Linked DNA regions of Homo sapiens. The protein of the gene in region 7 purifies or fractionates together with the protein of the main gene of each other region. This does not show direct contact. Each region holds a gene or a part of one and is shown on either strand. Other genes may lie near its edges. The genes, in order: UNC13D, PGD, PGAM1, RPE, PDS5A, RDX and G6PD.

What was found.
Region 1: the proteins of G6PD (region 7) and UNC13D fractionate together in Homo sapiens (co-fractionation; one large-scale study listed by BioGRID). This does not show direct contact.
Region 2: the proteins of G6PD (region 7) and PGD fractionate together in Homo sapiens (co-fractionation; one large-scale study listed by BioGRID). This does not show direct contact.
Region 3: the proteins of G6PD (region 7) and PGAM1 fractionate together in Homo sapiens (co-fractionation; one large-scale study listed by BioGRID). This does not show direct contact.
Region 4: the proteins of G6PD (region 7) and RPE fractionate together in Homo sapiens (co-fractionation; one large-scale study listed by BioGRID). This does not show direct contact.
Region 5: the proteins of G6PD (region 7) and PDS5A fractionate together in Homo sapiens (co-fractionation; one large-scale study listed by BioGRID). This does not show direct contact.
Region 6: the proteins of G6PD (region 7) and RDX fractionate together in Homo sapiens (co-fractionation; one large-scale study listed by BioGRID). This does not show direct contact.

Annotation. Positions count from the first base shown.
Region 1 is NC_000017.11:75,834,405-75,837,904, reverse strand, and holds part of UNC13D (protein unc-13 homolog D), read left to right. Parts: intron 1-986; coding exon 987-1,104; intron 1,105-1,208; coding exon 1,209-1,333; intron 1,334-1,475; coding exon 1,476-1,566; intron 1,567-1,648; coding exon 1,649-1,705; intron 1,706-1,795; coding exon 1,796-1,893; intron 1,894-1,998; coding exon 1,999-2,050; intron 2,051-2,127; coding exon 2,128-2,258; intron 2,259-2,375; coding exon 2,376-2,496; intron 2,497-2,841; coding exon 2,842-2,985; intron 2,986-3,188; coding exon 3,189-3,287; intron 3,288-3,373; coding exon 3,374-3,500. UniProt on the Homo sapiens protein: Plays a role in cytotoxic granule exocytosis in lymphocytes. Required for both granule maturation and granule docking and priming at the immunologic synapse.
Region 2 is NC_000001.11:10,405,564-10,409,063, reverse strand, and holds part of PGD (6-phosphogluconate dehydrogenase, decarboxylating), read right to left. Parts: intron 994-3,500; coding exon 924-993; intron 1-923. UniProt on the Homo sapiens protein: Catalyzes the oxidative decarboxylation of 6-phosphogluconate to ribulose 5-phosphate and CO(2), with concomitant reduction of NADP to NADPH.
Region 3 is NC_000010.11:97,431,568-97,433,944, reverse strand, and holds the end of PGAM1 (phosphoglycerate mutase 1), read right to left. Parts: intron 1,591-2,377; coding exon 1,421-1,590; 3' UTR 501-1,420; downstream 1-500. UniProt on the Homo sapiens protein: Catalyzes the interconversion of 2-phosphoglycerate and 3-phosphoglyceratea crucial step in glycolysis, by using 2,3-bisphosphoglycerate. Also catalyzes the interconversion of (2R)-2,3-bisphosphoglycerate and (2R)-3-phospho-glyceroyl phosphate.
Region 4 is NC_000002.12:210,005,638-210,009,137, reverse strand, and holds part of RPE (ribulose-phosphate 3-epimerase), read right to left. Parts: intron 1-3,500. UniProt on the Homo sapiens protein: Catalyzes the reversible epimerization of D-ribulose 5-phosphate to D-xylulose 5-phosphate.
Region 5 is NC_000004.12:39,897,912-39,901,411, reverse strand, and holds part of PDS5A (sister chromatid cohesion protein PDS5 homolog A), read left to right. Parts: intron 1-904; coding exon 905-986; intron 987-2,586; coding exon 2,587-2,635; intron 2,636-2,883; coding exon 2,884-3,023; coding exon of another isoform or gene 3,024-3,056; exon of another isoform or gene 3,057-3,398; intron 3,399-3,500. UniProt on the Homo sapiens protein: Probable regulator of sister chromatid cohesion in mitosis which may stabilize cohesin complex association with chromatin. May couple sister chromatid cohesion during mitosis to DNA replication.
Region 6 is NC_000011.10:110,230,615-110,234,114, forward strand, and holds part of RDX (radixin), read right to left. Parts: intron 2,866-3,500; coding exon 2,623-2,865; intron 1,420-2,622; coding exon 1,255-1,419; 3' UTR 1-1,254. UniProt on the Homo sapiens protein: Probably plays a crucial role in the binding of the barbed end of actin filaments to the plasma membrane.
Region 7 is NC_000023.11:154,536,847-154,540,346, forward strand, and holds part of G6PD (glucose-6-phosphate 1-dehydrogenase), read right to left. Parts: intron 1-3,500. UniProt on the Homo sapiens protein: Catalyzes the rate-limiting step of the oxidative pentose-phosphate pathway, which represents a route for the dissimilation of carbohydrates besides glycolysis.

The DNA.
Region 1 (3,500 bases), on a different chromosome or scaffold from region 7:
TCTCCCCCATCCTCTGCCCTCCCACGGGACCTCGTTTGTGTGATATCCCCCCAAACCATCTGAAAGGAAGTTCTCACTGATGCTTGCCACATGTGCACGAAGGCTCAGGTTCATAGATCCTATTTTTCTTTTCTTTTCTTTTTTTTTTTTGAGCTGGAGTTTCCCTCTTGTCGCCCAGGCTGGAGTGCCATGGCACAATCTCAGCTCACTGCAACTTCTGCCTCCCAGGTTCAAGTGATTCTCTTGTCTCAGCCTCCCAAGTAGCTGGGACTACAGGTGCCTGCCATCACACCTGGCTAAATTTTGTATTTTTGGTAGAGATGGGGTTTCACTATGTTGGCCAGGCTGGTCTCAAACTCCTGACCTCAGGTGATCCACCCGCCTCGGCCTCCAAAAGTCCTGGGATTACAGGTGTGAGCCACTGTGCCCAGCTAATCCAATTTTTCAAAAACAGCAAGAAATCCTGAAGTTTTAAAATCACAAAGATCTCAATCTGGGCAATTTGAAAAGCATCTATGGAAACAAAGAAAAAAAATCCTGGCTGGTCACAGTGACTCATGTCTGTAATCCCAGAACTTTGGGAGGCCGAGGCGGGTGGATCACTTGAGGTCAGGTGTTCGAGACCAGCCTGGCCAACATGGTGAAACCCCATCTCTACTAAAAATAAAAAATTTAGCTGGGCATGGTGGTACATGCCTGTAGTCCCAGCTACTTGGGAGGCTGAGGCTGGAGAATCGCTTGAACCCAGGAGGCGCAGGTTGCAGTGAGCCGAGATCACGCCACTGCACTCCAGCCTGGGTGACGGAGTGAGACTACATCTCAAAAAAAAAAACACAAAACAAAAACAATCCTGCATGTCCTGTTGAGCCACTAGTTTTCAGCCTGTACTGGTGGATGGGAGGCGATTCCCCCCACCTGAGGCCGGGTGAACAGGGGAAGGCAATTTCCTCCTCCCTGTCCAGCTGAGGGCTTCCTGTCCCCTGCAGGCAGTGGCTGGCCTACAGCCGCCTCTACCAGAGCCTGGAGTTCCCCAGCAGCTGCCTCCTGCACCCCATCACCAGCATCGAGTACCAGTGGATCCAGGGTCGGCTCAAGGCAGAACAGGTAGGCATGCAGTGGCAAGGGGCACTGAGCAGGCAGGGCTCAGGGAAGGGGCAGGGGAGCAGCAGCAGCTGTCTAGGCCCCTAAAGCATCTCCTGGCTCTTCAGCAGGAGGAGCTGGCCGCCTCATTCAGCTCCCTGCTGACCTACGGCCTCTCCCTCATCCGGAGGTTCCGCTCTGTCTTCCCCCTCTCTGTCTCGGACTCCCCAGCCCGGCTGCAGTCTCTTCTCAGGTCAGTGGCTGCCTTCCTCTTCCTCGGTGGGGTCAGGGATGAGGGAGCAGCTGGGGTGCCTGCAGGAGTGGGAGAATTGTTGGAGGAGTGAGTGCAGTGTGGGGCAGCAGGCACTTTCGACACAGCTCTTTCCATCTTGCAGGGTCCTGGTACAGATGTGCAAGATGAAGGCCTTTGGAGAACTGTGCCCCAACACCGCCCCATTGCCCCAGCTGGTGACTGAGGCCCTGCAGGTATGGTACTCGCGCTGGGGATGGGGGAGACCAGCGCCTGGGCCTGGCAGTCCCTCCCTGCTCACTGCCTCTTTGTCGACAGACTGGCACCACTGAATGGTTCCACCTGAAGCAGCAGCACCATCAACCCATGGTGCAGGTGAGGGGCTGGGCAAGGGGGAGGGCAGGGGGTCACGGGGGGTGGTGCCTGCCTCTGGCAGCCCTGCCCAGCCCACCTCTGTCTCTGCAGGGCATCCCGGAGGCAGGCAAGGCCTTGCTGGGCCTGGTACAGGATGTCATTGGCGACCTGCACCAGTGCCAGCGCACATGGGACAAGATCTTCCACAAGTGAGCAGATAGCCAGGTCGGGAGGTAGTGGGGCATTGCCTCAGAGCCGGAACCATGGGGACCCTGGTGTATGCCACTGGGTGACACCTGCTGCCTTTCCTCCAGTACCCTCAAGATCCACCTCTTCTCCATGGCTTTCCGGGAGCTGCAGTGGCTGGTGAGTCCCTCCCCCGTCTCTAGGGCATGCCCTCCAACAGAGCTGTGGGCCCCGCCCTCCACACCTTTCCTTTGCAGGTGGCCAAGCGGGTGCAGGACCACACGACGGTTGTGGGTGATGTAGTGTCCCCAGAGATGGGCGAGAGTCTGTTCCAGCTCTACATCAGCCTCAAGGAGCTCTGCCAGCTGCGCATGAGCTCCTCAGAGAGGTGGGCAGCAGGCCAATTGTGGGCGGCTGCAGGGGCACAGGGGAGGGGAGGGTGGACGAGGCCCCAGGGTCCATGGTGGCCCCAGCCTTCCCGACGCTGAGCCCCGGCAATCCCCAGGGATGGAGTCCTGGCCCTGGATAATTTCCACCGCTGGTTCCAGCCGGCCATCCCCTCCTGGCTGCAGAAGACGTACAACGAGGCCCTGGCGCGGGTGCAGCGCGCTGTGCAGATGGATGAGGTGGGGGCGTGGCCAGGGCAGGGGGCGGGGCCCCGGTTTGGGGGTGAGGCTTGGGTTCTGCCTGGACCTCCAAAGCGTAGTAAAAGCCAGTAACCCGCTCTGAACATCCCTTTTGGGTGCACTTGAGTCCAGTTTTGTGCAAAACGCTGCCTCTGGATATCCTTGGGGCTGTGGCTTCACTTTGCCTGAGATCCTGCAGCCTGGGGGTCTGGGCGGAGCCGTGCTTGTCTCTTGTGAAGCTCCCTGCCCAGCTCTGTGCCTGGTGATGGTAGCTGCTCTATGAATGAAGGAAGGAGGGAAGGGGGTGGATTTGGCAGTATCCTGAGTCCTCCTTTCTTCCCCCAGCTGGTGCCCCTGGGTGAACTGACCAAGCACAGCACATCAGCGGTGGATCTATCCACCTGCTTTGCCCAGATCAGCCACACTGCCCGGCAGCTGGACTGGCCAGACCCAGAGGAGGCCTTCATGATTACCGTCAAGTTTGTGGAGGTGCGGCATCTTCCACGTGTCCTTCCCCCTCTTTCTAGAACAGCCACACTACCACCCACCGTTTCTCCCGTGCTCTCACCCAGGCAGCCTCCCAAGGCCTGTATTCTAAATCCCCCAAGTCGCTGAAATTCCCATGCCCTCCCACCTGCCCTTCCTGGATGCCCCACCCATGGATCAGTTCCCTCTGTCCAACCCCACCCTAGGACACCTGTCGCCTGGCCCTGGTGTACTGCAGCCTTATAAAGGCCCGGGCCCGCGAGCTCTCTTCAGGCCAGAAGGACCAAGGCCAGGCAGCCAACATGGTAAGGCCAGAGCTGGGGCTGGGAGTCTAGCTGGGTGTGGGGACCAGCCTGGGCACAGTTCAGGAAGCTCTGCATCTCTGTCCCAGCTGTGTGTGGTGGTGAATGACATGGAGCAGCTGCGGCTGGTGATCGGCAAGTTGCCCGCCCAGCTGGCATGGGAGGCCCTGGAGCAGCGGGTAGGGGCCGTGCTGGAGCAGGGGCAGCTGCAGAACA
Region 2 (3,500 bases), on a different chromosome or scaffold from region 7:
AAGTCCATGAAGGGACGTGGCTTGCCTGATGTCACAGTTAAGTTTATGGAAAGCCAGAACTGCCACTCAGGTCTCCTGAGCCTAATGCTTTTTTCCATCCACAGCATGGCTGAACTACAATATGAGATAAAGTTTACTTTAACAGCAACACGAGGCCGGGCATGGTGGCGCATGCCTGTAACCTCAGCACTTTGTGAGGCCAAGGCAGGCAGATGACTTGAGAGTCCAGGAGTTTGAGACCAGCCTGGGTGACATGGTGAAACCCCGTCTCTACAAAAAATACAAATATTAGCTAGGCGTGGTGGCATGCACCTGCAGTCCCAGCTACTCAGGAGGCTGAGGCAGGAGGATTGCTTGAGCCTGGGAGGTGGAGGTTGCGGTGAGCCAAGATCGCACCACTGTACTATGAACTAGGTTAGGCCTCCTTCATATTCAGTGAGGGTGCAAGTCCACAGGTTACTTTGTTCAAGCACAGAATGCCTGAATCCCACACTACAGGATGGGGAATTTTCCACGTTCATGGAATGTTGACACAGCAACAGTACCTTCAATCTTCCACCTTTCACCCATGCAAGCAAACGCCACTTTTGATTCTGACATTCTTTCCTTTGGCCATGAAATAATATGGCTCGAAAAAATCTTATTTCACTTCATCCTATTCCTTTTTAAAGAATTCATCTTTTAGATGAATTATAGAAGGCTGCTTTTAATATCAACCTCAAGGCTATGAACAGTCAGCTAAGATACAAAGATGTGAACAGCAGGCATGCATTCTAGGCGTTGGCTATTCTAGCAATCAAAGATCGAGACGTTTATGTCACCAAGCTAACCCCTGGGAGACCACGGTGGCCTTTCTCCACGCACTTCATCACTTAGACACGCCCATGTTGCCAATTGGCTTTAAAGAGTAGCCCAGAACTTGCCCAGTCACAGCAGGGTTCTCCAGTTCCCACTTTTGCAGCAATGCCTTGGAAGATGGTCTTGATGTGGGGCCTGTGTAAAGAAACAGTGTGGTTCAGTTAATGAGAAGAGACGGGCTGAGAGCCCATACCCATAGACACCAACATACCCATAGACACCAACCCCTATCTTTTCCTTTCTTTTTTTTTTTTTTTGAGACAGGGTCTCACGTTGTCACCCAGGCTGGAATGCAGTGGTGTGATCTCAGCTCACTGCAGCCTCCTCAACCTCCCAGGTTCAAGTAATCTTCCTGCCTCGGCCCCCTAAGTGGCTAAGACTACAGGTATGTGACACCACACCCAGCTCATTTTTTTGGATTTTGTAGAGATGGGGTTTTGCCATGTTGCCCAGATTGGTCTCGAACTCCTGAGCTCAAGTGATCCACCCACCGTGGATACCCAATGTGCTGGGATTACAGGCATAAGCCACCACCGCACTGGGCCCATCTTTTTCTTTCTAATGGGAGGTGGAAGTGCCCACAAAAAGATAATGAATGTGCTAAGTTCTCAAGGTCAACTGCAGACCCTTGACTGAAACTGGCCCCTCCTCCAGGTCCTGGTGGGCCCTCAAAGCAGACTGGACTATCGGACTGAGACTACAGACAGAAAGGCTGAGCAGAAGCATCACCAAAGCACCAGAAGAAATGTCTTCTTAGAGACAGGGTCTCACTCTGTTGCCCAGGCTGGAGTGCAGTGGCACAATCACGGCTCCCTGCAGCCTCAAACTCCTGGACTTAGGTGATCCTCCTGCCTCAGCCTCCCAAGTAGGTGGGGCTACAGGTGTGTGCCATCACACCCAGCTAATTAAAAACTTTTTTTTGTAGGGACAGGATCTTGCTATGTTGCCCAGGCTGGTGTTGAGCTCCTGGCCTCAAGCAATCCTCACACCTCAGCTTCCCAAAGTGCTGGGACCATAGGCGTGAGCCACCATGCCTGGCTAATTTTTTGTTGGTGGTGCAGAGATGGGGTCTCCCTATGTTGATGTGGCTGGTCTTGAACTCCTCGGATCAAGCACTCCTCCCACCTCAGCCTCTTGAGTCACTGAAATTACAGGCATAAGCCATCGCACCCGGCTCAGAAATTTCTACTGCAGCAGCAGCAGACAGTATGATTGCAAACAGCAGGCAATACGAAAGTTCCTTTAGAGATCCTCTTTTAATTTTTTCCCTTTTCTTTATTTCTCCTTATAATGGCTTTTAGCAAGTGAAGAGACCCTCTTTCATTTGTCTGGATGTGTGCTGCCAGGCACAGAATGGTTCTGGACATTTGGATTAAGAACCAGGCAGCGTTTTTGAGAGCTACATTACCATTCAGAGAAAGGCCGCTGTTCATTCCTTCCACAGCTCAGCACGCGGATATATTACTCTTGAGACTTTCCCTCACTGTTCTGCTCCCTAATGGCCAGTCAAGGCTTCCTCACAAAAAGTTTCTGGTACAGACATGAAATCTTACAGGGTTGCAAAGTTAACATTTAGGATTAGGGATGAAGACAGCCACACCGGAAACCGCAGAGCTTCACTGAACTTTTACAGTGTCCTTCTGGTAAAGGTGCCATTTGTACTTCTGCCACCACAGTATGAGGAAAGAGAACTGATGGAAACAACTGGAGCACTCCATATGTCAAATACTTTTACGTGCATTGTCTGCTGGTTGCCTTTCTAACTGCTCACTGTGCAGGTGCTTCGAGATAAGTATTTTCAAACCTTTTTTTTTTTTCTTAAGAAACAGGGTCTTGCTATGTTGTCCAGGCTGGCCTTGAACACCTGGGCTCAAGCAGTTCTCTCACCTCAGTCTCCTGAATAGCTGGCACTACAGGTGCAAGCCACTGCACACACAGCTGTTTAAACTTCTGAGAAGCAGAAAGGCCTCTCTACTTCTGTGTTTTATTAATAACACACTGAAGAGAATCCCCAGACTCATTCACCAGAAAGGTAATTAAAAAAATTATTTTTGGCTGGGCGCAGTGGCTCACACCTGTAATCCCAGCACTTTGGGAGGCTGAGGCAGGCAGATCACGAGATCAGGGGATCAAGACCATCCTGGCTAACACGGTGAAACCCCGTCTCTACTAAAAATACAAAAAATTAGCTGGGCGTGGTCGTGGGTGCCTGTAGTTCCAGCCACTTGGGAGGCTGAGGCGAGAGAATGGCGTGAACCTGGCAGGTGGGGCTTGCAGTGAGCAGAGATCGCGCCACTGCACTCTGCACTCCAACCTGGGCAACAGAGCAAGACTCCGTCTCAAAAAAAGAATCATTTTTTCTTTTTTACTGAGACCGAGTCTCGCTCTGTCACCCATGATGGAGTGCAGTGGTGAGATCTCGGCTCATTGCAACCTCTGCCTCCCAGGTTCAAGTGATTCTTGTGCCTCAGCCTCCCATGTAGCTGGGATTAGAGGTGCCCTCCACCATGCCCGGCTAATTTTTGTATTATTAGTAGAGAGTTTCACCATGTTGGCCAGGCTGGTCTTGAACTCCTGACCTCAAGTGATCCTCCCATCTCAGTCTCCCAAAGTGCTGGGATTACAGGCGTGAGCCACCATGC
Region 3 (2,377 bases), on a different chromosome or scaffold from region 7:
CCCCGTCTCTACTAAAAATACAGAAATTAAGCAAGCATGGTGGCACATGCCTGTGGTCCCAGCTACTCAGGAGGCTGAGGTGGGAGGCTTGCTTGAACACAGGAGGGGGAGGCTGCAGTGAGCTGAGATCATGCCACTGCACTCAAGCATGGGCGACGGAGCGAGGCTGTCTCAAAAAGAAAAAACAAAAAGCAGACTTTACTTACTCTAAAGAGGATATAATGGAGTTCAGAATGTGACTTTCCAATCAGGGGAGCACCAAGCAAGAGCTGCAGGGGGCAACGTGAATGGAGGGCTTGGCCAGGAGGGCCTCCCACCACCACCTCAGCTCACCAGGCTGACGTGAAAACCCCAAGGAGATGCGTCATTTTTTGACCAACCGTGTAAAGTTGTGACTGGATGTCCTAAAACAAACTGCCACACAAGGACTAGGGCAGTGAGAGACATTTCAAGTTAAATGCTAAAGTTTCCTCAGATAAGGTCTTCCACATCACACAAGAAGCTATTGCACATCACTCCTTTATTATACTGATATGGAAAAAGGATTTAGTACAGTTATGCTCAGATGAACACTGGACCCATGTGGCAGGGTCAAGCAACTAGAACATGATTCAGAAATCAGTGAAAGATACACTTGGACAGGACCAAGAGGCATTTCACTGCCATGAAACAAGGCAGGAAGGGATTCTAATACACACACCAGGAAGCACTCCTGCCCCTCAGAGGTCAAGGAGCTGATCCTATATTGGTATGAGGAATGGCTTATTTTCTGATGACCACATGTGGGACTATTTCAACCGCCACAAGAAACCCCAGAAGGGTTATTGTTTTGTATTATATATACTATACTTTTTTAATAAAAGTAAATTAACACATAACGAAATTCAGGATTGATCCCAACCTAGAGCCAGATCCTCTGGGGTCAGGGAGGAAACAGTTGTCACATCACCACGCAGGTTACATTCGTCTTCCACTGGAATGACTAGAGCCCCCAGGCAGTAGGCAGTGACCTGACTGCAGAAGAGCAGAGGACAGACTCCGCTCATGGGGACAGACAGGCTCTGTTGCTTCTCCTCACTGGTCATGGCTTAGCATGGTTCCTCCCCAAAGTCCTTAGTAAACAAAGCACTCGCAAAAACCCAAGTCACTACTTTTAAACTCTGTTGGATAAGGGGAGCTTTTCCATAGCTTAGACTGAGAACCTGTGCTCTAGAACTGCTATTCTGACTAGATTGTATGAAGGGAGTGGGTGCAGGCGACAAAATGGCTAAAATGAAAATGGGAGCCACTGGTCCCCGTCTGCAGCTACAACTCAAGATGTCTACAGATGTGGTCAGTGTGACATGTGCAGGTGGGAGGGGCAGAGGGACAAGACGGGCAGGGAGGGTGCTCCTGGGGACAGTATCCTCCCCGCCGGCCTTCACTTCTTGGCCTTGCCCTGGGCAGCCACAGCTTCCATGGCTTTGCGCACCGTCTCTTCATCCCCCAGAAACTGCATGGGCTTGATAGGCTTCAAGTTCTTGTCCAATTCATAGACAATGGGAATACCAGTCGGCAGGTTCAGCTCCATGATAGCCTCTTCAGAGAGACCTGAAAACATCCACCATCATCAGCCACACAAGACATAAATCCACATCACCCCTCCAGGTTTACTTTGTCCTCCAGGTGATAAAGGACTTTGACAGAAATTAAAATAAGACACCCTTTCTGATCTTTATAGTAGTTCTGAACCCAGGGAATGGCCCCCACCATACTTATTTCTCAGCCATTAAACTGAAAAGCAAGAAAAGGTATACAAGATAGACCACCAACAAACTACAGCAAGGTATATGGCCAGATATCTCTACCAAAGTGGGATCTAGAAGCCCACAGTGAAGCAAGACTACACATCTCAAATACCCTGTACAGCCCATCCAACCAAAAATCAGCACACGTGGGCCTCTAGGCCCTCGGGGATGAAGATGCAAATTGAGATTCATGTGTAAAGTTGTGCCTGGTTGTGACTAAGGAGAATTTTTTCTTTTATATATATTTGTTTTCCTTTTTTTTTTTTTTAAGAGACAAGGTCTTACTCTCTCACCCAGGCTAGAATGTAGTGGCACAATCATACCTCACTATAACCTCAAACTGCTGGGCTCAAGCGATCTCCCGCCTCAGCCTCCTGAGTAGCTGGGACTACAGATGAGCATCACCACATCAAGCTAATTTTTCATTTTTCTTTTGTACAGACAAGGTCTTGCTTTGTTGCTCAGGCTGGTTTTGAACTCCTGGCCTCCCAAGGTGCTGATAGTACAGGCATGAACCACTGTGCTTGGCCTTTTAAAATTTTGTAGAGATGCAGTCTTACTATGTTGCCCAGGCTGTCTCAAACTCCTGG
Region 4 (3,500 bases), on a different chromosome or scaffold from region 7:
ATCGTAATTTACTTCATTTCATCTTCACGACAGCCTTACAAAGTAGATGCTATTATTATCCCCTTTGAAGAGCACAAGATAAATAAAATCCTTAAGTAACTCAGTTAATAATTTGTGGAAGTGGATTCAAATTAAGTCTACCAGCCAGGCACAGTGGCTCACGCCTGTAACCCCAATACTTTGGGAGGCTGAGGCGGGCAGATCACTTGAGGTCAGGAGTTCAAGACCAGCCTGGCCAACATAGTGAAACCCTGTCTCTACTAAAAATACAAAAATTAGCTGGGAGTGGTGGCATGCACCTGTAATCCCAGCTTCTAGGCAGGCTGAGGCAGGAGAATCGTTTGAATCTGGGAGGTGGAGGGTGCAGTGAGCCAAGATCGTGCCACTGTATTCCAGCCTGGGCGACAAAGCGAGACTTACCTCAAAAACGAAAACAAAAACAAAAACAAATCAAGTCTACCAGACCCACGGTACTTATCCTTTACCCTACTCCAGTTAATCTTTTTGTTCTATCACTAGTTCACTTAAATCTTTAACAAAACCGGGGCCGGGCATGGTGGCTCACACCTGTAATCCCAGCACTTTGGGAGAACAAGGTGGCAGATCACAAGGGCAGGTGTTCAAGACCAGCCTGGCCAACATGGTGAAACTCCGTCTCTACTAAAAATATAAAAATTAGCTGGGTGTGGTGGCGTGCGTCTATAATCCCAGATACTCAGGAGGCTGAGGCAGGAAGATCGCTTGTACCCAGGAGGTGGAGACTGTAGTGAGCTGAGATCACGCCACTGCACTCCAGCCTGGGCAACAGAGCAAGACTCCATCTCAAAAAAAAAAAAAAAAAAAAACAAAAACAAACAAAAAAAATCCCCTATATGCAAGTACCATACTAGGTGCTTCAGAATACTGTTTTGTAAAGGAAATACGCTACAGTTCCTATGACAGAGATTGACAGCTAATGAATGACTCACCAGAATTCACAACCCTACTGCTATCGTATAGTTGTCAGTGGGATGTCAACTCAGTCAAACCTTTTCATTCCCAGTTCCCTTTATATTCAAGTGGCCCATGTGACTTTACATCCCAGTTCCCAGTTCCCTTTACATCCAAGTGGCTCATGTGACTCTCACCACCAGACTGTGAGTGCAAGTAGTGTGTCACTGCAGAGCTCAGAAGGTTAAGGAGAATTCCTTTCCTATTGCCACTTTACCCTTCTGCCAACAAAGCCCTTACAGAATGGAAGAGCCACAGAATGGAATAACACTCACACTGAACTCTTTTATGAATGAGAAACTAGAATGCTAAGCTACTGAAATCTGGGCTTTGTTAAAGCAGCAGGTATTATCCTATATGAGGATTACAAGAAAAGCTATACAATAACAGGCAGGTAACGTGATTATAGATAAAACATACATAAAATAAGAGCAAGTATTAGAGAACGTTAAGAAAGAAGTTCATGAGATTTACAAAATAGGATTTATAAAGATGGGAAAAGAAACAAAGGCTGAAAATGAAGCAAAAGCAGAAATAAGCAAGTTACAGTCAAAGACGTGGAGAGTGGTATTGACCAACTTTGGCTAGTGTAAAAAAAAGATGGGAGGTTGGTAGTATCACATTAAAGGTGTCAAATGCCAAGCTCAGTGTCTGGACTTTTGTCCTGCTGTAAATATGAAGTAAGATCTTAAAGTGAGAAATATTAATAAATAAGATAGGATGGGAAATAAATTACAAGAGGGTAGGTGACTGCAATTGCCACTTGGTAAGTGGCAAGGAACACTAAGAATGACAAGACAGGCAAAACTGATTGGATCTGTTAAATGATTAGGTGTGTGGGAGGGGAGTTAAAATACAAACTATGTTTAAGGTCTCACAGTTAGATGACAGGTAGAATGAGTGCTAATAAAAACCAAACTTATATGTGGGCCACACACAGTTCTAAAGACTTTCTGTATATTAAATCATTAAAACCTCACAACAACCCTATGAGGTAGGTACTTTTATTAACTGTATTTTACAGATGAGGAACAGAGGCCCAAGGTCACACAACCAGTAAGTGCTGGAGGCAGGAATTAAACATAGGCACTATGGCTACAAAGTCCAGACTCTTAACTACTATGCTCATCTGTCCCTATAATGACAACAAACGAAACAAACAAGGGGAAAAAGTCTAGCGGAGAAGAGATTCAAGAGAGAGAGGTAAGGATTCAGGACACATCTGAGAGGGACACATAAGGTGGATGGGAACAGACACTTTCACTCAATAACACCTTGGTCTTTGGAGGTTTAATTTCTATCATTAAAAAAGTGATTCTAACATTTGCCTGAGCAATGATTGTCAGGGCTGTGGATAAGATGCATGTGTTTACTTAGAACTTGAAATAAGGGTCACAGAAGCAGGCAGTAAGGCCTATTGAATGTTTTACAATTCTGGAATTAAAGATCTGAATTTCACATACTGTTCTTTTAATTTGCTGTGTAGTCTGGGAAATAGTTTCGTTGTCTTAACAGTAGGTTTCATTTATTATGAAAATAAAAGTATAATAACCACCTCCCGAGTAAATAAAAGAACCAAAAAAAATACACTTTTACTTTTTTGGGAAAACCTAAACAAAACGTATAAAAATACTAACCCCAAAGTTACGTGACTTAATTTGTGCTTTTGAAAATCAATTCAATGCACTAGGTTCACGAAGTATATTGGAAGAACAAGAATGCATCAGTAGTCTCAAAAAAAAACCCAAAGGCTACGCTAAGCCATAACAAAAAGGGGCTACAATCCTAAGCACGAAGTCAGGGTGTCCCAAATTTGCCAAACAGTAACCATGAGAGCAGTTCTAATGTATTTACAGTCTCTACCTCAGCCTACTGACTCCAAAGAGGACCGGGAATCTGAATTTTGAACAAATGCCAGAGGGAGTTAACAGACCAGCTTGGAAAACACTTAATTATTTCACTTAACAGAGAGAAACTTCACTAAAAAGTCTGCTTCATCATTATCTTATTCTGCCTCTTTTTCCTTTAAGTTATTTCCTGGAGTTAGTTAAGTGTGAAAGAAATAAAATAAAATAAAAAGGTATCCCTTTCTTCCAGGGACTTACTGGAATTACACTATAATTTTTTGTAATACAAGGATACAATTTTCTCTCTCATGTTCCATCATCACTCCTAAGCTTTACTTACGTAATTCTAACACAATCTACTGCAGACAGATCAAGCCATTTACCCTATCTCCCAACAAGGCAAAGATGGTAAGAGGAGGATTAGAGTTGCTATAAAAGGTACAGGACTGTAACTAGAACACAATCTTCCTGTGAATCAGGAATCACAAACTCAATGCTGCTGAGAGTTAGGTAACATCAAAGAGCAAAACAGAGCAGATAGGGAAAGGGGCCAAATGAAGTACACCCCACATGACTAAAGGTGAGGCTGCCCCTGTCAGCTCCAGCGCATGTCACCTGGTAAGACTGAGGGCCCAGTGCTAGCAAGTCTTTGAACTGTTTTTT
Region 5 (3,500 bases), on a different chromosome or scaffold from region 7:
CCTGTAATCCCAGCTACTAGGGAGGCTGAGGCCGGAGAATTGCTTGAACCCAGGAGGCAGATGTTGCAGTGAGCCGAGATTATCCCATTGTACTGCAGCCTGGGCAACAGAGTGAGACTTGTCTCAAAAAAAAAAAAAAAAAAAAGAAAGAAAAGAAAAAAAGACTGTCATTTTGGCAGAAATTCTATTACGATAGTGTTGTATCATGGTTACTAATCCCTTTCCTTGCTTAAGGTTTTGATGTTTGTTTACATTTCAAAATATCTGACAAAGAGTGTTTAGAGATTAGTAATTCTCAGAGGTCATCTGGGCACCTGGAAATATGGATGGGATTTCTGAGAGAAGAAAATCTGTGTTCCTGGAGAGAGAAAAGTTTAGAATAAACACAATAATGTAAATTTGGCATCTTGAATCTGCATCATTTTTGATACTTCATTTTTCAAAATAGTCTATAGTGCTTCATGTATATGCCTTAGCCTTTTTAATAAGGCCTTCATGATTTGATCTGTGTCTGTGGAATGCTCCAGCTTCCTTATGCTCCACACACATGCCTTGTGCTCCAAGCGTATACATGTTTTTCAGTTTGTTTTATGTCCCTTGCACTTTGAGATTTTCTTTCCTTGTACCAAAACTTTCTAGCTACCTGTATTTAGTACATCTTTCAATCCCTGTATTACTTATTAATCTTTCTAAACCTCTCAAATATTTTCTCTCATAAGAAGGCTTATATTTACCATTTGTACTAAATTGTTTTAAATCCTAATAAATATATTTCCCGGTATTTAAACTTTTAGGTAGATGTAGAAGAATGGTGTATATACAGCATGCAACAAGAAAGGTTGTAAAGCTGAATAATTTCCAGTATTGTTATGTAATGTGTGTTTTCATATTCATAACTTTACAGAGCTCTCAACGAAATGTGGAAGTGTCAGAACATGCTTCGGAGCCATGTACGCGAACTATTGGATTTGCACAAGCAGCCTACAGTAGGTTCATGATTTGTTTAAATTCATAGTTTATTATAGTCACTGTTCAGATTTTCTGTAGTTCTACGTAATGAAGCAGGGAAAAAGTATCTCAGTTGTTTTATTTTCCAAATGTCAGTTAAATATAATTTCTGTAGTTGTCCAAGCTAAATTTCCATTTAAAATAAATATAACAAACTCTTATTTTCTAGTGTGAGCAAAGAAATGGTGTTTTCTAGTTTATATAAAGTTTTCAGACACTAAGAGTTTATAGTTAATCAATTTTCAAATAATTAGAATTAAATTTTGAGATAAAATTACATTAAACATCATATTTCTTTTTCACTGCATGATTCATGGTCTCTCAGTGTAGAGTGAATATCAGATATCAATCCTATAAATATGCCAATGGCAAACTAAAAAAGAAATGCCATTAAATTTTTGCAAGGTTGGGGAAAAAAACTTTACATTTTTACGTGTGTTCACTAGAATAGGTGTTCTTAACCAGGGGACCATATAAACAGACCCCTCAAGGACACATGGATGCTGGAACAGGGGCGGGCAAACTTTTTTTTTTTTTTTTTTTTTTTTTTTTAATACACAGGATCTTACTCTGTTGCCCAGGCTGTCGCATAGTGGCATGATCACAGCTCACTGCAGCCTCGATGTCACTGGGCTGAGGTGATCCTCCCACCTCAGCCTTCTGAATAGCTGGGACTACGGGTGTGCTCCACCATACCCAGCTAGGTTTTGTATGTTTTTTGTAGAGGTGAGTTTTCACCATGTTTCCCAGGCTGGTCTCAAAATCTTGGGCTCATGCAGTCTGCCTGCCTAGGCCTCCCAAATTGCTAGGATTACAGGTGTGAGATACTGCACCTAGCCTAGCAAACTTTGAAAATAAATCAACAGATAGCAAAAACATATTTTGCAAGGCATAGAGTCTGTGGTCAGATATTCAACCCTGCCTTTGCAAAATTAGTCATACACGATAAATAAATGAATGGACATGACTATATTCCATCGAAACTACTAACAAAAACAGGTAGCTCATGGGGGCATAGTTTTCTAACTTTTGAACTAAATTATTCAAATTTAGTATAAATGAAAACTAATAAGTAATGTTTTATGGGATACAGGAAAGGGAAGTACGTTTTAGAAAGGAGGTTTTCCTGAAGGTATTTAAGTAACGGGCCACAAAGTAGCTAACAGAACTCTATTGCAGAAAAAAAAGTTTCTTCTCTATATTTTTAGTTAATTTTTTGTGGCATGTAGTTTCATAGTAATTCTGATATGATAAGTTTATATGTTGATTGCTTCATTGATCTTTTTTCAATCTTCTGGCAATGTAACTTTCCTGTGAAAGTTATATACTTGTGGGTTTTTAAGTACCTTCCTCCCAACATCTCCTTTCCTTCTATTTGTCTTAATAGTTGCTACTATGTAATTCTTTGTTGTTAGTTTAGCGTATATATGTGGTAAAACCATTTTCCATTGAGCAGACTGTGATGAACTTTATTTTTTAACGTCATGAAAAATGTACAGTAATGAGTATTGATTTTTGTTAGGGAAATTTGTTAACACATATGACTAGTTGTTCTTTTGTTTCTGTTTTAAATTTCAGTCAGAGGCTAACTGTTCTGCCATGTTTGGAAAACTGATGACCATAGCAAGTGAGTATGTTTATTTACTCACTAAACATGTAGTAAACGTAAATGCAGACAAAGTATTTACCCAGTGGGACTACTGATTTAATGTTAAGTAAAAGAAAATAATCTTTATCTTAATTTTGTTTCTAAGAACCAGCTAGGCTGATTTTCTTTTAGTGGCTCCGCAATATTTTGATGGCACCTGTTTTTAGCTTAGTAGAATAGTTTTTTTTTTTTCCTTCTCTAATATTGATTCTCTTTTAATTTTATAGAGAATTTGCCTGACCCCGGGAAAGCACAAGATTTTGTGAAGAAATTTAACCAGGTTCTCGGCGATGATGAGAAACTTCGGTCTCAGTTGGAGTTATTAATTAGCCCAACCTGTTCTTGCAAACAAGCAGATATTTGTGTGGTTAGTAAATCATACTTCACACTTTTTCTCTAGCTTTACTTACAGAAATATGTATTTTATTAAAGCCTGTTTTACATACAGTGATTTGTGTAAATGTAACAATATTGTGAGCTCTGAATTACTTTGGAGTATATCTATTGTCAAGTTAATTCTCTATTTACCATTCACTCTCAGCCACATTCCAGGAAAATAACTAAAGAACTAAGCCAGGGAGATTGGTCTTAGGAATTTTACAAGATAAAGTACTTTGAACTTAGTAGACATTCATTGAGTAATGATAAGTATTTTCTGAATGCTTGTGTACATGTGCATTTTCTTCTTTCATGTATTAGAATGGAAATAATCGTCAATAAATTAGTAGTAGTAACATTGCCATATATCTGGTTTCATTTACAGATAAAGTAAATTCCTATCTAGACTTTTGTCTTCATTCTTCTCTTGAACTCATTTAAAACCAATATTCTTAAAGCTATCAGG
Region 6 (3,500 bases), on a different chromosome or scaffold from region 7:
CTCTCTCATTCTCTCTCTCTCTTGCTCAGCCATACAACACCCCTCCAGGATGATAGTATACCAGTGAGGAGCTTACAATTTTAATACAAATCAGAATCCCACAGTTTGACTCGACAAAAAGGCAGTTAAAAATTTAGCACTCTTAAGATATTCTGAAGGAAAATGAAATTTCGAAAGTATTTCTTGATGATCGAGGCTATGGTTATGAATTATAAAACATATACCTTACACACTCCATTGTGTTTGAACAACCAGTCATCACAGATGTAGTAGTGAGGTAGTATTGTTGTCCCCTCCTCGGGACTGATGTTTTTATATGCTGCCCTTCCAGAAAAGGTCCAGGTTTTAAAAAATAACATTAGTTACCAACAAATGTATATTTTCTTTTTTTAACTAATCATTTGTTTTTCTAAATCAGTCTATAAAAGAACAAAACTTTTAAAATCTTGCAGAGGCTGTTTCATCAGTAAACTCTCCTAGGGAGCTACTACTGCTGTCTAAACCTCTGTGAAATGGTAGGCAAAAAAAGCCATCAAAGGATCACAGGAGATAAAACACCAATCAGTGTAAGCTGTTAAAGATGACTGTGATTAAATAACCAAATATCAAATATCCAATAAGGTAATTAAATTTAGATTAAAAAAAAACTAAGCACCAGCTGTACATACATTATTAAATGTTCTAATCTCTTTCCTGATTCATAGCCATATTCTACATGATGATCAAAGACTGTCCACTGTGCTACCTACCATCATTTTAAACACTGCCTGATCTGTATGATGGTGGAATTATGGCTATGGACATGGCAGATAAGAGAAGGGCACACTGAGAAAATGTGAGTGAGAGAGAATGTGGAAATAGGTTAAATATGGAAAGGGCAAGGGAAACCCATTAAAATGTTCACCATTATCCTTTAAAATGTACACAGAACTGAAACCACACATACACATTTGTCAGACGTGATAATTAGTGTTAATCTTCAACAGAAAAAAAAAAGAAAAAGAAAAAAAATGTGAAAAGAGGCAATGGAACACCATTCTCCATTCCCTGGACCAAAAGAAAAAAGAAAACCAAGCATGATATCATACTGCCTTAATGTTGAAGAGCTCCCCTTAAATTTGTCTTTTAGCTAGCACAGTCAAACTGGTGTAAGTGCTTTGGCAAGGTGGGATGCATTCCATCATATCTGCAAAGGCCTGCTTTTCTCTGTTGGTGGTTCAGCTTATGAAGAACATATATGCAAAATAACAGCTCTCACATTGCTTCAAACTCATCGATACGCTGCTTTGTATTGCCTTGTCGAATCTGTCGCAGAGTCTTGTACTTATCACGGCCTGCTTTAACATTCTCAGCATGAAGAACATCATTTTGTGTTTTCTTGGTTTCATCTCTGGCTTGGGCTAATTCTGAACTTAATGCCTATTTAAAAAATAAAAAGTACAACTATTATTTTTTTCTTAGATTTAAAAAAATTTATGAAAATGGCTTTAAGATGCAAAAATACATATACCAAATCATTTCCACTGTGAAACCTTTTTCTTTAGGTATAAGTTTGTTTTAGTAATAGTGGTGGCAGTGGTAAGGGAGGAATACACATGGCCTTTCCACATTTATCAACCATGGTATTTTGTACATTATTCTAAATTTCCTTAACTTTCTAATCTAATACTTGAAATGGCTAAAAAGTTCAATGTAGCCATTACAGACTAATATTACTATGAGATTTAAAATCTATACCTCAAGGGAAGCCTTCTCCAAAAGTCTTAATACATTTATTGTAACTATCACCTCATTTTCTTTTAATATTTAAAGATTTTAACAATTAAAATATTAGATAACTTATTGGGAAAAAAGAAAGCTCATAATATTAAAATCCTCTACTTTGACCTAGTTATGTCCATGTAATATACTGACCTTTTGCCAATATAAAATCTCAACAAATAATTAAGATTATGTAATGTCTTAAACATAGTATATTAACTATCATTCTTTCCAATGTACATTTTATTTTATTTTATTTTTTTGAGACAGAGTCACTTACTATTGTCCAGGCTGAAGTGCAGTGGCATGATCTCGGCTCACTGCAACCTCCACCTCCCAGGTTCAAGCAATACCTCAGCCTCCCAAGTAACTGGGATTACAGGCTCATACCACCATACCCGGCTAATTTTTGTATTTTTGGTAGAGGCAGAGTTTCACCATGTTGGCCAGGCTGGTCTTGAACTCCTGGCCTCAGGCAGTCCACCTGCCTCGGCCTCCCAGAGTGCTGGGATTACAGGTGTGAGCCACTGCGCCTGGCCCTCAATGTACATATTACTGATCAAAAACTAAATTCACGTTTTTCAACATGACATTAGAATACTTTCTACCTTTTAAAATGGGTCAAGCTGTAATTAAATAACTCACTAGTTAAGGTCTGATTATACAAAGCTAACAGGTATTTGCTAATGGGTTCACACAACGGAAGAAATGAAATAACATGACTATAGGCCAAACACCCACAAACCAATCACAAGGGCAGCCAGTATTAAAACTTCTATATTCTTTTTAACTAAGTTTGTCTAAGATGGGGAAAATGCAAACTATATTTCAAATGCACATACAACTGCAAATTTTAAATACCTGAAGTTGCTTCTTAACACGCTCATTTTTCTGTGTTTCGGTTACACGTTCTTCCTCGCTTCTATGGTTCATTACCCCTTCATTTGATAATTCAGCACTAGCTTCAGCATTATTCTCATCGTGTTCATCATGTTCGTTTTCTGTTGGAGGAATGACTGGTGGTGGTGGAGGTGGAGGGGGGGCAGACATCACAGTTTTTAACTCTTCTTTGGTCTTTTCCAAGTCTTCCTGGGCTGCAAAAGCCTGAACATTAAAAATACGTTTATGAGCAACTTACTTCAAAAATTAATAATCAAAACAATCAAGTTATACTCCCTTTTTAATAGAAACTGTATTTCAAGGTAATGAAAATAGGCCCTATTTATGAAACCTCTATTTTCATAAAAGAATGTCAACAGGTAAAAGAGAAAATCAAAAACATTATTATGCAAACCCTATTAGAATTACTCTGTGAGCTTCAAAGTGACAGATTAAAAGAAAAACAAGCATACATGCAAAAAAAGAACTATTAATTCTGGCAAGGATTATCAATTGTTTGCTAAAACTGTTGTGCAAATAGTTGATGAGAAATAGATATTCATATAATGCCTAAGAATCTCACACCCAATAGATTTTATTTGAGCCACAAGGGGAAAATGTAACCGAATAACGGAGGAATGAGACTGTCGTTACTCAAATCCAATGATCACTAAAAAATACTAATGGTGAGTTAACTAGATATTAAGTGTCTTCTGATATGATACAACCTGAAATATCTAACATCACCAATTATTTGGGTGATCATATTATCTTGGTTTACCTGGAAAAGTCCTGTTACACTGTTGTCCTGGTGTAATTATGAACAATACCCCCTTTTTCTCAAAAGTACTCCAGTTTAG
Region 7 (3,500 bases):
AAAAGATAGAACTGCAAGCCAAATTACCAGGAAGAAAATAGGAAATAATGACAAGTAAAATTAATAAAATTAAAAGCTAACCCAAAGAAAAGATGAACAAAGCTGGAAATTGGTGTTTGAAAAAGACGAATAGAAACAGACAACCCCCTGGCATGGTTGCTTTTTTAAAAGGGCATAGGCCGGGCACAGTGGCTTACTCCTGTAATCCCAGCACTTTGAGAGGCCGAGGCAGGCGGATCAAGAGGTCAGGAGATCGAGACCATCCTGGCTGACACGGTGAAACCCCGCCTCTACCAAAAATACAAAAAATTAGCCAGGCGTGGTGGCGGGTGTCTGTAGTCCCAGCTACTCGGAAGGCTGAGGTAGGAGAATCACTTGAACCCGGGAGATGGAGGTTGCAGTGAGCCAAGATTGCACCATTGCACCCCAGCCTGGGCGACAAGAGTGAAACTCCGTCTCAAAAAACAAAAAACAAAAAAACAACTAAACAGCTGGACGCGGTGGCTCAAGCCTATAATCCCAGCACTTTGGAAGGCCGAGGCGGATGGATTACCTGAGTTCGGGAGTTCAAGACCAGCCTGACCAACATGGAGAAACCGTTTCTACTAAAAATACAAAATTGGCTGGGCATGGTGGCCCATGCCTGTAATCCCAGCTACTCAGGAGGCTGAGGCAGGAGAATCGCTTGAACCTGGGAGGCGGAGGTTGCAGTGAGCCAAGATCAAGCCACTGCACTCCAGCCTGGGCTACAAAAGCGAAACTCCGTCTCAAACAAACAAAAAACAGAGCAATGGACCTGAGAGGGGACAGTGGCCACAAATCTTCCTACAGAAACAACCCCCTGGCATAGAGAGTGTTGCCAGTGGGTTCTACCAAAATGCAAGCACAAGAGAATTCCAGCCTGAAGCAAACTCTTCCTGCAGAAGGAAGAAAGGGGAACACTTCCCAAGCCACCTTATGGGGCCTACAGAGCCTTGGTACGGAAACCTGATGAGAAAGGCACATGGGAAAACCCATACGCCTCATTCACACACACATGCAGATGCAGAAATCCCACACGAAATATCAGCAGGCCGGGCACAACTCACACACCCCAGCACTTTGGGAGACCAAGGTGGGAGGAAGATTGCTTGAAATCAGGAGGTTTTTTTTTTTTTTTTTTTTTAAAGACATGGTCTCACTCTGTCACCTAGGCTGGAGTGCAGTGGCACGATCTCAGTTCACTGCAACCTCTGCCTCTGGGCTCAAGCAATCCTCCCACCTCAGCCTCTGGAGTAGCTGGGACTACAGGTACATGCCAACACACCCAGCTAATTTTTTGTATTTTTTGTAGAGACAGGGTTTCCCCATGTTGTCCAGGCTGCTCTTGAACTCCTGGGCTCAAGTGATCTGCCCGCCTCAGCCTCCCAAAGTGTTGGGATTACAGGCGTGAGCCACGACGACCCACTGACCCTGTCTCTTTAAAAAAAAAGAAGAAAACATCAGCAAACCAAATCCTGCAATGTTAAAAACGGTAGGTTTTTTATTTACAGAATAAATACATCTGTAAATAAAAAGTTGGTTTGATATTAACAGAAAAAAATCATTGAAATTCACCATATTAAGAGATTAAAAAAAACCTCTAAGAACTCTCTGCCTACTGCTATGTTTTGATTTTTTAAATCTAGCAATCTTGCTCAACCCAACAGATGTAGATCAAGTGTTTCAGAAATCACCTATTCACGCTAAAACTCTTAGCAGAGGGGGAATGCAAGGGAACTTCACTAACTTGATAAAGGGCATCTATAAAACACCATTCTGGCTGGGCGTGGTGGCTCAAGCCTGTAATCCCAGCACTTTGGGAGGCCGAGGCGGGGAATCGCTTGAGGTCAGGAGTTTGAGACCAGCCTGACCAACATGGTGAAACCCCATTTCTACTAAAAATACAAAACTTAGCTGAACATGGTGGTGTATGCCTGTAATCCCAGCTATTCAGGAGACTGAGGCAGGAGAATCGCTTGAACCAGGAGGGAGAGACTGGAGTGAGCCGAGATCACACCACTGTAGCCTGAGCAACAGAGCTAGACGTCGTCTCAAAAAAAAAAACCACCACCAAAAAACAAAGAACAAAAAAACCCCCAAACCATCATCCTTACAAATACTACAAATATCACACTTATAGGAAATGCTGAAATATTAATCATCCCTTTAAGCAATCAGGAACAAGAAAAGTGCAGTAAGGCAAGAAAATGAAAATGGCTGAAGTTGAGCTGTGAGGTGGTGCGGGTGCTCCCTCTGATCAAGTGAAACACACACCTATCCTGTGACCTGGCCGTTCCACCCCAAGAGAAATGAAAGTGCAAGTCCACACAAAGACCTGCACACGAATGGTCACAGCAGCCTTGGTTCATAGCGGCCCCAAACTGGAAACAAGTCAAACACTTGAATTAACATGTGACCCGGCAAACTGTGCATTCATACAACGGATACTACTCAGCAACACTGGGAAATCTCAGCATCAGAGATGCAACCCATTGTGACAGAAATCAGATCAGCGGTTGCCTGGAGCAGGGCAGATTGGCTGGGAATGGGTACCCAGGAACTTTCTGGGGAGATGACGATGGCCTTTATTGTGATGAGGGTGTACAGCCAATTGTACAGTTAAGATTTGCGCACCAACAAAAGACGGCGAGAAAACCAACAATGGAGCGGAGGGTGGGGAGTGGGTCAGAAATGACCCTTTGAGGGCCAGTGACTGTGAGAGCCCCAGGTGAGGGGGCTTCCTGGGTGCAGAGCATATTCTGTTTCTTGATCTAGGAGCAGTTTCTGTGGCTGTGCTGAGTTTGTGAAAAGTCATCAACAAGCTAGACCTGCACCATCTGTGTTCTTCATGACATGTATTTCTTTTTTTTTTTGAGACGGAGTCTCACTCTGTCGGCCAGGCTGGAGTGCAGTGGCGTGATCTTGGCTCACTGAAATCTCCACCTCCTGGGTTCAAGCCATTCTCCTGCCTCAGCCTCCTGAGTAGCTGGGACTCCAGGCACCTGCCACCACGCCCGGCTAATTTTTGTATTTTTACTAGAGATGGGGTTTCGCCATGTTGGCCAGGCTGGCCTCAAACTCCTGACCTTGTGATCCACCTGCCGTGGCCTCCCAAAGTGCTGGCATTACAGGCGTGAGCCACCGTGGCCGGCCCATGACATATATTTCAATAAAACATGGTAAAAACTAATAGTCTGGGCGTGGTGGCTCATGCCTGTAACCCCAGCACTTTGGGAGGCTGAGGAGGGTGGATCACCTGAGGTCAGGAGTTCGAGACCAGCCTGGCAAACATGGTGAAACCCCGTCTCTACTAAAAATACAGGCCAGGCGCGGTGGCTCATGCCTGTAATCCTAGCACTTTGGGAGGTTGAGGTGGGTGGATCACGAGGTCAGGAGATTGAGACCATCCTGGCCAACATGGTGAGACCCCGTTTCTACTAAAATACAAAAAATTAGCTGGATGTGGTGGTGCGCGCCTG